2 linked regions of the Homo sapiens genome follow. The protein of the gene in region 1 interacts with the protein of each later gene in a pairwise test. Each region holds a gene or a part of one and is shown on either strand. Other genes may lie near its edges.

What was found. The genes of interacting proteins can lie anywhere in the genome.
Region 2: the proteins of CARNS1 (region 1) and TRIP12 interact in a two-hybrid assay, tested with the Homo sapiens proteins (one study listed by BioGRID and IntAct).

The regions. Positions count from the first base shown.
Region 1 is NC_000011.10:67,411,116-67,418,700, reverse strand, and holds the start of CARNS1 (carnosine synthase 1), read right to left. Parts: upstream 3,024-7,585; 5' UTR 2,938-3,023; intron 2,526-2,937; 5' UTR 2,502-2,525; coding exon 2,499-2,501; intron 1,295-2,498; coding exon 1,024-1,294; intron 271-1,023; coding exon 181-270; intron 1-180. UniProt on the Homo sapiens protein: Catalyzes the synthesis of carnosine and homocarnosine. Carnosine is synthesized more efficiently than homocarnosine.
Region 2 is NC_000002.12:229,764,993-229,772,016, forward strand, and holds part of TRIP12 (E3 ubiquitin-protein ligase TRIP12), read right to left. Parts: intron 6,641-7,024; coding exon 6,527-6,640; intron 4,334-6,526; coding exon 4,239-4,333; intron 3,728-4,238; coding exon 3,624-3,727; intron 2,759-3,623; coding exon 2,562-2,758; 3' UTR 1-2,561. UniProt on the Homo sapiens protein: E3 ubiquitin-protein ligase involved in ubiquitin fusion degradation (UFD) pathway and regulation of DNA repair.

The DNA of each region.
Region 1 (7,585 bases):
GGCCCCCGGGTAGCGGAGTGGAAGCAGCTGATCCCAGAACCCATCCCCATTCAGCATGGCAGCTGCTCCGGTGGAATGCAGGCAGTTGCCAGGGTTGGCGGGTATTTTGGGATGTGGCTGGGCCAGGGCAGGGCTGCCCTTTCTGTAGAAGGGGATGGGGAAACTTGAGCATACACTCACCCGGGCTCTGGACCCCACCCTCCAGCAGCACAGGCAGAAAGGTGCTGGGGGAGCCCAGAACGCACAAGGTCACCTCCGCCCCAGGACAGCCTCGGGAAAGAGAACATGGCCCAGCTCACCAGGGGCGCCCTTGCTGTCTCTCTGCCCACCTTCCACCACCTCCACACCCACGGCCCCACCCTGAGCCCCCAGAGTTTTCCCAGGAATCGGATGAGACAGGGGACAGGCAGGGAATGGAGGTGCCCGCCAGTCCTGCCCCGTGAAGCTGGTTTCCCCTTTCTGCAGCTGTTCCAGAGGTGCTGTGGGCTAGGTGACTGGAGACCTGAGTTCTAGCCCGAGCTCTGACTTTCTGTGTAACCTTGGAGGAGTCAGTGTTCCTCCAAGCCTCAGTTTCCAAGTTTGTACAATGGGACCAAGTCTGTGATTCTCAGGTATTCTGCCTGTGAACCCTCTGTCCACACAAAGTCTGATATATGTAACAGGCGTGGAGGGGCAGAAGGGGAGGAGTCTGGGGGGTCTCAGCTGCTGAGCTGCCTCCACCACAGCTCCCAAGACCTTTCTCTAGAAGCTTCGGTGCCACACAACGTGGTTTCCCAATCCCAGGGCTGGGTCTTTTTGGGGAGGGGGTGAGGGCAGGGAGCCCAATCCTTGACCTCACTGGTGCCAGATGCCCTTGCAAACAATGTCCGCCTACCCTAGGCCAACTGGCTGTGCCTTCCCTGCCTTCAGATGGAACCAGAGCCTAGGGGAAGGGGCCGACCTTGACAGGGATGAGCAAGCAGACTGGGCTGAGGGCCCCTCCCTGCCCCCAGAGGTGCCTCCCTCCAGGGAGCCCTTGGGCACCTGTGCGGGGCACCTGGCCGCGGTCCTGAGTCTCCGGAAGGCCAGCTTGCTGCAGACAGCTCTGCAGGAGGCTGTAGTAGTAGACAGTCCAAGCCCGGGCCTCGGCCCCCTCGGGGGATCCCTTGCAGTCCAGGCCCACGTCCTGGCGCCAGGAGCCAGGGAAGCAGCCTGTGGGCGGCAGGCCAGAGCCCCCTCCCCAGGGGCCCTCTTCCTCCAGGTCCTTGGAGCCCAGTGGGCAATCCCACTCGGGACCCGATGGATCCAGGGAGAGCTGAGAGGGCAGAAGTGGTAGGTCTTGGGCAGGGTGGGCCAGTGGGCACATTAAGTCACCCAAGGGTGTAAGCCCCCCACTCTCCCAGCCTGGGCTATGTTCAGGGCTGACACCGTCCCGGGGACTAGGAGAGGAAAGGCTTGTGTTGGGGGCGAAGGCTTGTTAATGGGAACGCAACCGTGGGAGTGCTTTGTAAACTGTTCTGTGTGGTGCCCCTGGGGGGAGGGCAGGAAGCAATGTCTTGCCAGCCAGCCCCTCCCGCCCCTGCCATGCTGGGCTCCGCCTTAGCTTGCTTCACAGCAGCAGAGTTTTCTGCTTGTTTTGTTCATGGAGGCAACCCCAGCACCTAAAGCGTGCCTGGCACACAGCCACTTCTCAGTAAGTGTTTGTTGACTGAAGAGTAGATGAATGAACGAACCCAGCCATCACTCTGAGGTGGCTTATTTCTGTCTCATGACCCGGCATGGAGTGTGCTGACACCTAAATGTGATTCCACTGTCATCCCCACGTAGGTCTTGAAGCCCTACTGTGTGCCCAGCCCTGGGCTAAACATTAGGAGGCTAGACAGTATCCCCCCTGCAGATATTTTGAGTCACGGAAATGCTTTCTTTGGATGAAACCTAACGTCCCTCCCCTCTCTGAGGCTGGCGCCCCCCCAATATGGGGCTGCTGGGAGGCTTCGTGTGAATGGAATTCTTGTTCTTTGCAGTCCCCAGGCCTGGACAGGCCTGGCAGCTGAGTCTGTCCTCCAGGGGACAGGCTCGGCCACCTTGAGCAAGTCGTGAGGTCTCTTTGGACCTTGTTGCCTGGTGCCTGCCCTCTCCCATCCCCTGGGGGCTGATGAGGCTGGGACGAAGAGAATCTCTTGGTTGTTGGGAGATGGTGTGCTGTGGCCCAGACGGCAGAGGACTGGGCCTCATGCCTGGGCTCGAATCCCAGTTTGCCAGGGCCAGAGCCTCTGTGCCGTCTCCTAGAAGGTGAGCTCCCTGAGGGGCCATGGAATGAATGAATGTCACAGGGCACTAAGAGTGCCCACCTCCCAGGATGCAGCCGCAGGGTGGGGGTGGGGGAGCTGGTCGTGGGTCTAAGCTGTCTGCAGGGGGCAACTCCCAGGCTTAGGTCCTAGGTGCTGCCTGCTGTCCTCTGGGCCCACTCTCTGCCCAGGGACTTGGGCCTTGTGGGGGAGGGACCACAGAAGACTCACCATCTCGTGGGTGGAGTGGCTGAGAGACTGATGGCAGAGACAGAGGGACAGAGAGACGAAGGAGTCAGGGCAGCCAAGTCCCTGCCTGGCCTTCCAGCCCCTAGACTTTGGGAGTGGAGAGGTGGCCGACACCTGTCCCTGCAGAGAGAGGCCAAGGCAGCCCCACCCCCACCCCGAAGGTAGGGAGGGATTTCTGCTGCCCAGACCGAGTGGCTCCTGCCCCAGTGCGGCTCACAGGTCCTTCCTGCCCTGGGGTCCGGGCTTGGCTCTGCCCCTCCAGCGCGGGGGGGAGTTGGGGGCACCGGGTCCCGGGGGTGGGGGGCGTAGCGTCGAGGGTCCCGCCGCGGGGAGCGGGCGCCCGGGGTCCTCGTCCCCGCGACTCCTGCCCCGGCCGCCCCCCTCCCTGGCTCTCCCCGGGGCGGGGCCGGAGCTGGGGTACCTGGCGGCGGCAGCGGCTCGGCGGGCGTGGCGGGCGGACTCGGACCGGGCGGGATGCAGCGGCGGCGGCGGTGGCAGTGGCACAGCGCCCGGCCCAAGCGGCGCCGCTTTATATAGAAACGCCTGGGGCATGCCCAGTGCCCAGCGGGGGCGGCGCGGGGCGGACGGACCGACAGGGACCGATAGGGACCCGCCGGGGACGCGCCCCCCCCCCCCCCCGCCCGTCAGCCACGAAAACGTCCCAGACCTGGGGGCGTGTGGCGGGACACGGACCCAGCAGGAGGAGGGCACGGAGCAGGCAGGGAGAGACGGGGGTCTTCAGAGACACAGAGGAAGTCCCGACAGAGGGCCAGGTACAGATGGACAGGGACTGTCGTCGAGGGTCACAGACGTAGGGCTGCCATGAAGAAAGAGGGAGGCCCACCATGGAGAAGAGATGGAAAGGAGGGGCGGGGAGAGCCGGAGCAGGCAGAGACTGGTACTAGGGCCCGCCCTTAGGGGTGGGGTGCCCGGGAGAGCAGCCTGGAGCACACAGCCCTGAGCCCTACCTTTGGATGGAGGCCGGAGGTCCCAGCCCTGCAGCTTTCTGTCCCAGCTGCCAGCGCTTTGCCCTATTGCACGTTCTCCCAGAGAGGCCCTCCTGGGCCAGGGTCTCCACACATCTGTGCAGCCCCCTCCTCACTTCTGGACCCAGTGGACTTGCACACAGGGGCCAGGATGTCTATAAGATCCAGCCTCTCCTGGTGCGGTGGCTGCCTATAATCCCAGCACTTTGGGAGCCTGAGGCAGGAGAATTGCTTGAACCCAGGAGTTTGTGACCAGCCTGGGCAACATAGCAAGACCCTGTCTCTATAAAAAAAAAAAATTTAAACTAGCTGGTTGAGGTGGTGTGGGCCTGTAATCCCAGCTACTTGGGAGGCTGAGGTGGGAAGATCACATGAGCCCCGGGGGTCGAGACTGCAGTGAGTCCTGGTTGTGCCACTGCACTCCAGCCTGGGCAATACAGTGAGAGCCTATCTCTCTCGCTCGCTCCGCTTTTTTTTTTTTTTTTTTTTTTTTTGAGACAGAGTTTCAGTGTGTCGGCCCAGGCTGGAGTGCAGTGGTGTGATCTCAGCTCACTGCAACCTCTACCTCCCAGGTTCAAGTGATTCTCCTGCCTCAGCCTCCTGAGTGGCTGGGATTACAGGCACACGCCACCACGCCTGGCTAATTTTTGTGTGTTTAGTAGAGACAGGGTTTCGCCGTGTTGGCCAGGCTTGTCTTGAACTCCTGACCTCAGGTGCTCCTCCTGCTTCGGCCTCCCAATGTCCTGAGAATACAGGTGTAAGCCACTGTACCCAGCCGAGACCCTATCTCTCTCTCTTTTTTTTTTTTTTTTTTTTGACCCTATCCCTTTTTTTTTTTTTTTTTTTTTTAAGACAGAGTCTTACTCTGTCACCAGGCTGGAGTGCAGTGGCACAATCTTGGCTCACTGCAACCTCCGCCTCCCCGGGTCCAGTGATTCTCCTGCCTCAGCCTCCCAAGTAGCTGGGACTACAGGTGCGAGCCACCATGCCCAGCTACTTTTGTTTTGTTTTGTTTTGTTTTGTTTTTGAGATGGAGTTTCGCTCTTGTTGCCCAGGCTGGAGTAGCTGGGATTATAGGCATGCGCCACCATGACAGCTAATTTTGTATTTTTAGTAGAGACAGGGTTTCTCCATGTTGGTCAGGCTAGTCTCGAACTCCCGACCTCAGGTGATCTGCCCGCCTCAGCCTCCCAAAGTATTAGGATTACAGGCATGAGCTACCGCGCCCAGCCCACCCAGCTAATTTTTGTATTTTTAGTGGAGACGGGGTTTCATGATGTTGGCCAGGATGGTCGCAATCTCCTGACCTCATGATCTGGTCACCTTGGCCTCCCAAAGTGCTAGGATTACAGGTGTGAGCCACTGCACCTGGCCCCCCTATCTCTTTAAAAAAAAAAAAAAAGAAAGAAAAAAGAAGAGAAAAGAAAGGAAAAGAAATCTGCTCTGCTTATCAACACCCACCCAGGTCAACTTCACACCCGGAGTTGAAGCTATAATCTCCCCAAGACATACATACTCACACCCAAGTGTACCCACCCAACCACAGAAGCATACCCCAGGAGACCTGGGTCTCAGCCACAATTCACCCACAGAAGCACAACCAGAGATTCACCCCCTCTCCTGGAGTGTGTCCCACCAGTGGGTTTCAATCCTAGCTCTGGCTGTGGGACCTGGGCCCCTCCCCTTTGTGATCTGAAGCTCACTCTCCCCAGCCTAGAATGGGGCTGGTTTCCCTCTCCTAGGCAGGGCAGCCTATGGCTCTAACTCCTCCCTCTCACAGTCCCCAGTCAGCCCTTCTCCCTGCCTGTCTCGCAACTGGACACATATTGAGCCCTGGCTGTCCTTGAGAGCCTCCTGGCCTGGGGGAGAATACTGAGGGGCCCACACATGTCAGGGACAGAGATGACAGCTGTTGGACCCTTTCTGCAACTATATACAGGGCAGTCTGTGCAGACCCATCCCTGTCTACCACTGGAGAGGGTCGGCAGAGAGGGGAAATGGCTTCTCCAGGATGCCCAGTCCAGCCCACATTCCCCACACAACTTCCAGGCCCACGTGCAGCCCTCCCTACAGCTGGTCCAGGCTCCAGGAATGAGGAACCAGCCCCATTCTAGGCTGGGGAGAGTGAGCTTCAGATCACTAAGGGGAGGGGCCCAGGTCCCACAACCACCCCAGGAGACCCAATCGCTTGCCACCTGGGTGGCCTGAGCGCCCATGGGGTCCCACTGTGGGGCCTGGGCGTGATCCAAAGAGCATGAGCTTTGACATTTAACATTTAACAAGCTCTGCAGCCCTGGGGACTCAGTTTTCTCATCTTCAAATGGGGATACAGTGCACACTCAGCCCAGGCTTAACACTTCACATGCAAGGGAGCAATTATGAGACTGAGAGAGGTCGTGTGACTTGCCCAAGGTCACACAGCTGGTGAGAGGCAGAGCCGGGATCTTCTGCCAGAATGCGTGCATGCATGCACAGAGTGCTGCGGCTGTGCCCTCTCCTAGGCCACCCTGTCTGGTCCCTGGCTGCTCTGGCTTTTGCCTTGTGGATACAGGGAGGAAAATCAGAGTTGGGCAGCTGCAGCCCAAGCTCAGGATCCTGGGACTTGGGGCAGGCAGGTGGGCGGGTGGTTCTGCTCTGCCCCTGCCAGGAAAGCCTGGACATCACCTGAGGCTAGGTAGGGGTGGGGTGAGGAGAGGCAGTGCTTTGGCTGCTGTCCCGCTGGACTGAACAGTCATCATCATCATCATCATGAGCTGGTAGAGCCCTCTTGAGGCTGGGGTGGGGGCTATTATAATCCCATTATCCGCAGGAGAATACTGAGGCTCAGAGGAGAAGAAAGGGCCTTTCCCATGCAGGTGAGTCCAAGTCTGACCCCTCTGGGAGCCTGGAACAGTGTGGGAATTCAGGGAACCTCAAGTGGGTGGCAGGGCAAGATGGAGACCGTGGGTCCTCCCCGCCGATCCATGGCAGGCACCCATTTGTCCTGCTCCACTCCTTTGCATGCCCCCACTCGTGTCCACTCTGAGGCAGGCTGACAGACATCCCAGGGGCCCTCCCAGCTTCAGTCCCCACACACTGAGTCCTCTCAGATGCATCACTTCCCTTCTCTGAGCCCCCTTCCAGGCAGATCTGTAGGGACTTTCTAGGTTCACTGAGCATGTTTGTGTAGGTTGCTCACTGCACAAAGGCACCTGGGAGAGAGATCACACCCCACTCTGCTACACCGTGCACTCTGGTGAGGCTGCATGTTGCCTGGAGGAGAGACGTCTTTCCCTAGCTGGCAAAAAGGTGCTGTGGGGGCCGGTGCAGCCCTGCGGAGGAGAGCCTGTGAGAACGCATGTGTGCGAGGGTTCACACCCGGAGGGCACTGGGCCTCTTCTGTCCAGCCTGTGAGTTAGGGCTCCCATGCAGGTGACTGATAAGGAAACCTACAGAAGAGCTGCCCAGAAAACAGTCTCCTGAGTAGGAAAGGCAATGACTGAGCCCCAGCTGGAGGGACGCTGCTGGAGACCACCGGCTCCTAGGGTCTGTGTCCAGGGTGAGCCACTGCCACCGCGCCCCCGCAGGCTCATGACAGACCCTCGGCCCAGGGCTGAGGCTGCTGCACCTTGCTCCTCTATTCTCCCAGGCAAAGAGCTGAACTGTGGAGGGCGGGGAGCTCCCAAGTGGATTTCAGGGACAAGTGCCCCCTGACCCCGGCCACCCTGCCCGCTACAGTGCCTGAGATTCCACCAAGACACTCCTCGTCTAAGGATAAGGCATAGTCTACACAGCACAGAGCCTTGCCTCTGCATTCCAGCCGGCTCTGCCTTTCACTGTGGGCCTGGGTGAGGTCCTTGTCCTCACTAAGCCTGTGTCTCTAACAGGGATATCAGGGGCCACCTGCAGAGAGAGGGCCTAGGGGCGGGGGGTCTGGGAAAGGGTTTTGTAAACTACAGGTAAGGAGGCTATTATTAAGTTGCAGGCACCCCAGCGGGGTAAGGAGGAGTGGGCAGAGGAGGCTCTGGAGCGCGCTCTAAATCACGGGAGTCTGGCTATTGCCTCATTCACACACTGAGGGGCTGGTGCAGGATTGGGGGTAGA
Region 2 (7,024 bases), on another chromosome or scaffold:
AACTCCGTGTCTGCTCCCAATTAGTCTACCTAGAACTTACAGTTCAGTTTTCTGGGGGGATAGGAAGAGGGGATTACATTTAGCTACCTCTTCCTTCTTGGAATAGTTAAAAATACGTTCTCATATATAAAGCAGATCGAATCAGTAACTGTCTAAATGACAACACAAATTCGGTGTTAGCTATGACTAACATCTGACTGACTCCATCTCAGCAAAAAATAAAGGACAACAAAATCTCAGTTGTTACCCAACTAAGTGTTTAAAGTATACTAAGAAGTTAGTGCTCGTTGATAGGATTACCAAGCAAATGAATTTAAGGCATAACTGGAGTAACAGCAAATGAAGTATATACTTTTTCCCTCTGGTGCAATAAGGCCTCTGCCAAGAGAGATTACTTTAAGAGTTTTCCTGCCCCAAATTAACCAAAGGTCCCGTGTATTGAAGGAGGAATAAGCTAAAGGCTGAGGCTTTTAAACAGGTAACGACTGACTTTGAAACACTCAAGACTTTAGAGTTTGAGTCAAAATCATCATATATACTTATTAGATGCTGGAATCAATGAGGCCAAATTTGCCAGGGCTGCAACATGGATAAAATGTCAAGTACAGATGAAACATTATTTTGTTTATACATGTCTAAATTTTAACAGAACCCTTTAAAAATCAGGAACAAAATGCTATGTTCACACAAAAATCCTTGTGCTTAATTTGCAGGAAGATATCAGAACAGTTGAAAACAAATTGTTTCAGTCTTTAACTTCACTTGATGAAGCTGCTCAGCAACTGTGCTGTTAGTGGTGAAAACTGCAGAAACACAATTCCCTTCTTGGATTTCAGGGAAAAGCCATTCACTTGTCAGTCTCTGCAGAGACAGGGAGAGAATTCTCTGCCCCCAACTCCTCTGACAGTTCCCTTCCACTTAATGGGGTCACTGCCCAAGTGAACTCTCAGGAGGGGACATTTCCATATAAGGCCATTTAAGTGTAAATTGACACAGCAATCTATGTCAAACAAGCCACTGAGTTTCTTTTGGGTGGTGGGATAGGGAAAAGGGCTTTTGTGTCAATTAATTAAAACTTACAGAACAGTCAAAAAAATTGATTTCTCAAAGTTCAATTAAAAAAAAAAACTAGCTCATCTCTTATTTTCAAGGAGATGAATTATGGAAAATTCCTTCAAATTTATGCCACAGGCCTAGTTTTGGACCTTAGGAAGGAATCTCCTCCCATTTTCTCTTCACATTTTAGTTTCTTCAAGTTGCTATTATAAATTGTTTGAATAGCAAAATCAGCCATGACCCGAATCATGGAGATATGTGGATTTCCTTGCATTGAAATACATCTATACAATTGAAAGTTATGCATACAGCACAAAACTATAAACAAAAAGGTGAAGCAAACTTTCTTTATTTTCAGGTAAAAACATTAACCTGATGGATTATTGCAGATTTGAGAAATCAGCACATAAAATGACTGGACAGCATTGCTTACAGGTGCTTTTATCTGCGTCGAGACAAAGGCTGAACTGTTTTGTCCCAAGTCAGCACTGGGAGAAGGGGAAGAGGAGCGTGGAATAAAGAAGACTATGAACAAAAACGTAAAACAACAAAGGGAAAAAAATTTTTTTACTCCAACAGGGAAGGAAAACTGCTTATTTTGTTTAAAAAATTTACATTAATTTAAAATCCTCTGGCCACAGAATAATAAATACCGGCCAGCCCAAGCTGTAGACTTCTTAACCTTCATAAAAGAAACAAATGAGCTTTCCTTGTCTCATTCCAGAGGCTGTTGCTGCTGGAATTGCCATGTAAACAGTCCTTAGTGTGTCACCTGGGAAAAAGCCAGTAATACCCTAAACTATATTAAAACTAAACTATAAGAAAAGTCTACCTAGTTACAAAAGCTGAATTATATTCAATAAATTTCAATCCAATGAATTTTAAATTAGATCTTAACTGGAGAGAACATGGGACAACAGAAGCCCATGGGTAACGAAAATTTGAGAACTGTGAGTTGTATACAAAAAAAAAACTGTGAGCTGCACAGATAATAATGAATCAGGGAGAGAAAATCAGAGGAAAGTGAAAAGCACATAGAGCTAGTCTACTAAACTATATTTGTCAAATACATGTGAGCTTAAATTTCTGTACTTATGTACAAGAGTTGTCTTTGGAGGAAAGAAAACTGCAGACTTAGCTAGATGGATACACACAGCCCAGAATTAAACTGCACAGCCACATTTATTGTTCCAGCCTGGAAAAACATCCCTTTTTTAAATTTCACACAGCAAAGCATGTTAAAAACTTCACTCATCAAATAAATGATAATTTAAACAAGAACTTGCTAAAGAAACCTCATCACAACAACGTTTTAGGGCCTGATCACTTTAAGTCCATGGGGCCATTAATGAATATCAACCAAATGTCTCTTTATAATCTGCAAGCCGTTTTTCCTACAACAAGAAGGCGTAACATGTTTCCTTGACTCAGGTGATAACATTAGAAAAGAAATCATGATTTGTTTCTTTTGCTGTAACAGGCAGACACTGCATTTCTTGCTATGATCAGGAAAGATGGAACGACTGCTGCCCTTCTCTTGCTGCTATCAACAGTTTTTCACGCATTATCTCAATGCTTGAATAGTCCGGCAACTTAAGATAGTTCACACAAGTCATTACAGAGGGCAAGAAGTCATCTGGGTTTTCTGTTGATTCAAACGTCTTTCGGACAATTGTCAAAGGTGGATTCAAACTCCGGAATCCTGATTAAGAGAAAAAGAAAGACAAGGAACTTAAGTTTTTAAAAAACATCAGCTATCAGAAAACATTCCACTGCTTTGCCGTACAATATTACACACAAGATATTCTTTCTTGCTTGGCAATTGCACATTCAATATACATTAAGTGCAAGGAACCTGCTTTAATTTATCATTTAAAAACTCGCTGTATAACATGGAGGCAACAGTTCTTTATGTCTTCTGATTTTTAAAATGGAATACCCACAGTGGTTCACGCCCGTAATCCCAGCACTCTGGGAGGCCGAGGTGAGCCAGTCGCTTGAGAGTTTCAGACCAGCCTGGGAAACATGGAGAAACCCTATCTCTACAAAAATACAAAAATTAGCCAGACATGGTGCTGTGTTGTGCCTGTAGTCCCAGCTACACAGGAGGCTGAAGCAGGAGGATCTCGCCTGAGCCCAGGAGGCAGAGGTTGCAGTGAGCCAAGATCACGCCACTGCACTTCAGCCTGGGTGACAAGAGTGAGATCCTGTCTCAAAAAACAAAACAAAAACAACAGAATACCAATTTAACTTACATTAGGATTCAATCTGAAAAACCAGATTTTAGAATCCATTCTCATCTAAGTCAACTAAGAGTTTAGAATGTACAAATGGCCTGGAATTTTATCTAACCAGCATTACATGTGCATTAGTAATCCTACTTCAATATGTTTAAGACAATCCCCATGGATTTCCCTGCTAGTGGTCTCAATGTACTATAATGATACTGGAATAACTAAGAGGCACTGCAAGTGAGATAAAGAATCTCCTGCTGATGGTACTGAAGTTTCACACTCACAAACCCACCCATAGGTAGAATAAATGCTAAACATCAACATCGTACCCACCTCCAACAGGCAATCTTGGGCTACCAGTCACAAACTGGAGAAATAACCTCTGCTGCTCATTATCAAAACTACTGAGAATCTCAAACAAAAACTTCACAGCCCGACTATAACAGAAATAAATATACCAAAATTATTTCATCAGGTTAAAATAGAGTTTTAATCACACTGCATCGCATCACATGACATAAAAATTAGATTAGCACTTTTAAATTACACATACATTTTCCATTACAATGTACTTAAATTCGTTTCTGTTATGACTAGACTAGAATTCAAATGGAATGATTACAGTTGTAATAAGTAAGACTTGATCTGGTACTGTACAGATATTTCTGCTTTACTATATGTAATAATGGGGAACAAGATTAAATCTGTCTTCCCCAACCCCTAGTATTTTCACAGAAATACTTGAGAAAGAAACCCTTGGGTCTTAATTTCCCATCTTCAGAGAAATAAGGCCAAAACAGAAGTAAGCATCCATTAACAGGTAGACACATTTTAAAATGAACCACTCCAACTTTTGTTGTTTACACATGTGCGCATGTGTGTGTACACACACACCCCTCTCCACATTCTTCAGAATCAACAGAAAAACTGGCAGACCCCAGTACTTACCTGTCATGAGTATAACCATGATCAGGCCTACAGCATTCCATCAGTGTCTTTGCATCCCAAGTGTCTGCTTTACTGCCACAAAGGAGCTGATCCAGCTGTGAGTTTAAATAAGGGTAAAAAGAATTACTAAGGAAACATTTGTTTACGTGAGTGAAAATAAAGGTCTACGTGTACCATAAAAGAGTATCAGTCTCAGTACTAAAACCTTCTGCTTGGGACCTCTTTCCAAAAAAAAAAAAATAATAATAAAATAAAATAAAATTTAGAGATTCCATTTCCTTTTTAGCTGTACGCTATTAAGTACCCTGCCCATCTGCAGGGACTTGGTTCCTGAGAAACCCTTCCTCTCAAACCAAAAACACCTGATGACCCTTGATTTCAGTTTTCCTTTCTTCTCATTACTTTAGGTGCTTTAAATGGATAATCTGCTTCTAGTCAGGGAGATTTTATAAATCCTGGCTTTCAGAAACACAAAGGTATACAGTAACAGATGCCAAGGGAGAGAACATTGAGCTGGAGAAAGAAGTGGGAGAAGCAAGCTGAACTAGGACACAGCAAATGGGTAGGTCTTTACACTTTGTAGAGAGGCATGTCTACGCTACATGGTTGGTTGTATGGGGACCAACCCAGATATTATAGAATGAATATTAGAAAGCAATAAATGCTTTCATGTCCTTATACTTTGAGAAAATCCAATTTGAGGCCAATGAAATTTAATATCTATTATATAATGCTCACTGTCTGGTCCTATATATTTAAAGACAAAGCTTTGCTCTGTTGCCCAGGCTGGAGTGTAGTGGCCTAATCACAGCTCACTCCCGTCATGATCTCCTGGGCTCAAGTGATCCTCCAACCTCAGCCTTCCAAGTAGCTGAGACTACAGGTGCATACCACCACGCCCAGCTAATTATTTTTTTTATTTTAGACAAGGTCTCACTATGTTGCCCAGCCTAATCTTAAATTTCCGAGCTCAAGTGATCTTCCCACCTCCATCTCCCAAAGTGCTGGGATTATAGGCTAAGTCACTGTGCCCAGCCTATTTAATTTCCATTACTCTGTGATAGGGGTTATTCCAATTTTACAGATGAAACAGTCCTATCAGATACAGTAACTTGGATAAGGTTATACAGCAAGTGGTGAGGACCATGATTCTATTCCAGGTGACAAGCAGTGCCTACAAGTATCAGGCACACTACATGCTTAAGTAGACACAAATATAACTGAGATTAAGACGTTAAGTTAATCAAAAATTTATAGATTTAATCAGTAGTGAACATACACTCTAAAACTAGTATTCAAACAATAAATAAAAAGGTTTCAAAACTGAGGGAAACTGGACACATTCTAGAGGCTTTCTGTATCTCACTACCAGTGAGTAGTTCTTTTGAGATTTGGCACTTGAAATTAAAGACGGTAATATGGTTTGGCTGTGCCCCTACCCCAAATCTCATCTTGAACTGTAACTCCCACAATTCCCACCTGCTGTGGGAATGACCTGGTGGGAGGTAACTGAATCATGGGGGCAGGTCTTTCCCAGGCTATTCTCATAATAGTGAATATGTCTCACGAGATCTGATGGTTTCAAAAAGGGGAGTTTCCCCGCACAAGCTCTCGTCTTGTCTGCTGCCATGTGAGATGTGCCTTTCACCTTCCACCATGATTGTGAGGCCTCCCCAGCCACGTGGAACTCTAAGTCTAATAAACCTCTTTCTTTTGTAAATTGCCCAGTCTCGGTTATGTCTTTATCAGCAGCATGAAAACAGACTAATACAGGCGGCTAGAGAAAACCAAGCACATAAATCCATTTCTTCCATTCTCAGAAGTATTCTCTGTATTTGGCAATTAGATAATTTATAATACTTTCTTAAAACTTCAAGGACTAACTTTGATTGTGAAACAATGTCTCATCGAAACGAAGTTTAGTTAAGGAATAAAGTCAAGCCCCCTCCATGTCTCTCTTTGCTTCCACAGCAGTACAGAAACATGTAGAACATGCCACACACAGCACAAGTCCCCATTCTCCACTGAATGGCATTGAGGGTCTTGGCTGACAAAGATGCTATGCTTACTGTCACGCGTGGAACCCGCTCCCCAATCTAAGAGGGGACACCTATTTAACATTCTTCCTTGCTCAGGCAATTTCCTTGTCTTTCCCAAACATCCATCCCCTGCTATCTAACACCCATTTTTTTGTTTTTGTGCAACAATACGGTCTTTGACTAGGCAGCACAGAAACACTCCACTAAAATTATAGGTATGACCATTTCTTTTAGATATAAGCTACTCACTTCCTCCGGGTAGAAGTACTGAAGATGACTGAGTGGGAAGACTGATTCAAATCCATCTCTGAACGAATCAAATTGCCTAGAAACGCCTTCATTTAGTGCCCAGAATATAACCAGCTGCAAAAAGAAAGTTTTCAAAAAACTGTGACAAGATTTCAAATCTCTTTACTATTTAATATGTGGCAAAGTACAGTGAAACACCCTTCTGGATCACTTTATAAAGAACAAACAAGTTATTAAGACTTTAAAATAATCTGCTAGAAAACTACATGAGTAAAACATCAGGTCAACATCTAATGTGGGGCCCCTACCAATAACAAAATGTAAAAAAAAAATGCCATGTGCATTTACATTTAGTGTGTTTTAAAAATCTATTTATGTGAAACCCATGCCATACAGTTATATTACCTCACTGGATGGGAATCAAATGAGAATTTCCCAAGAGGATAAAATGTTATTGAGAATTAAAGGTAATGTTTGAAGAATCACAATTAGCCACTA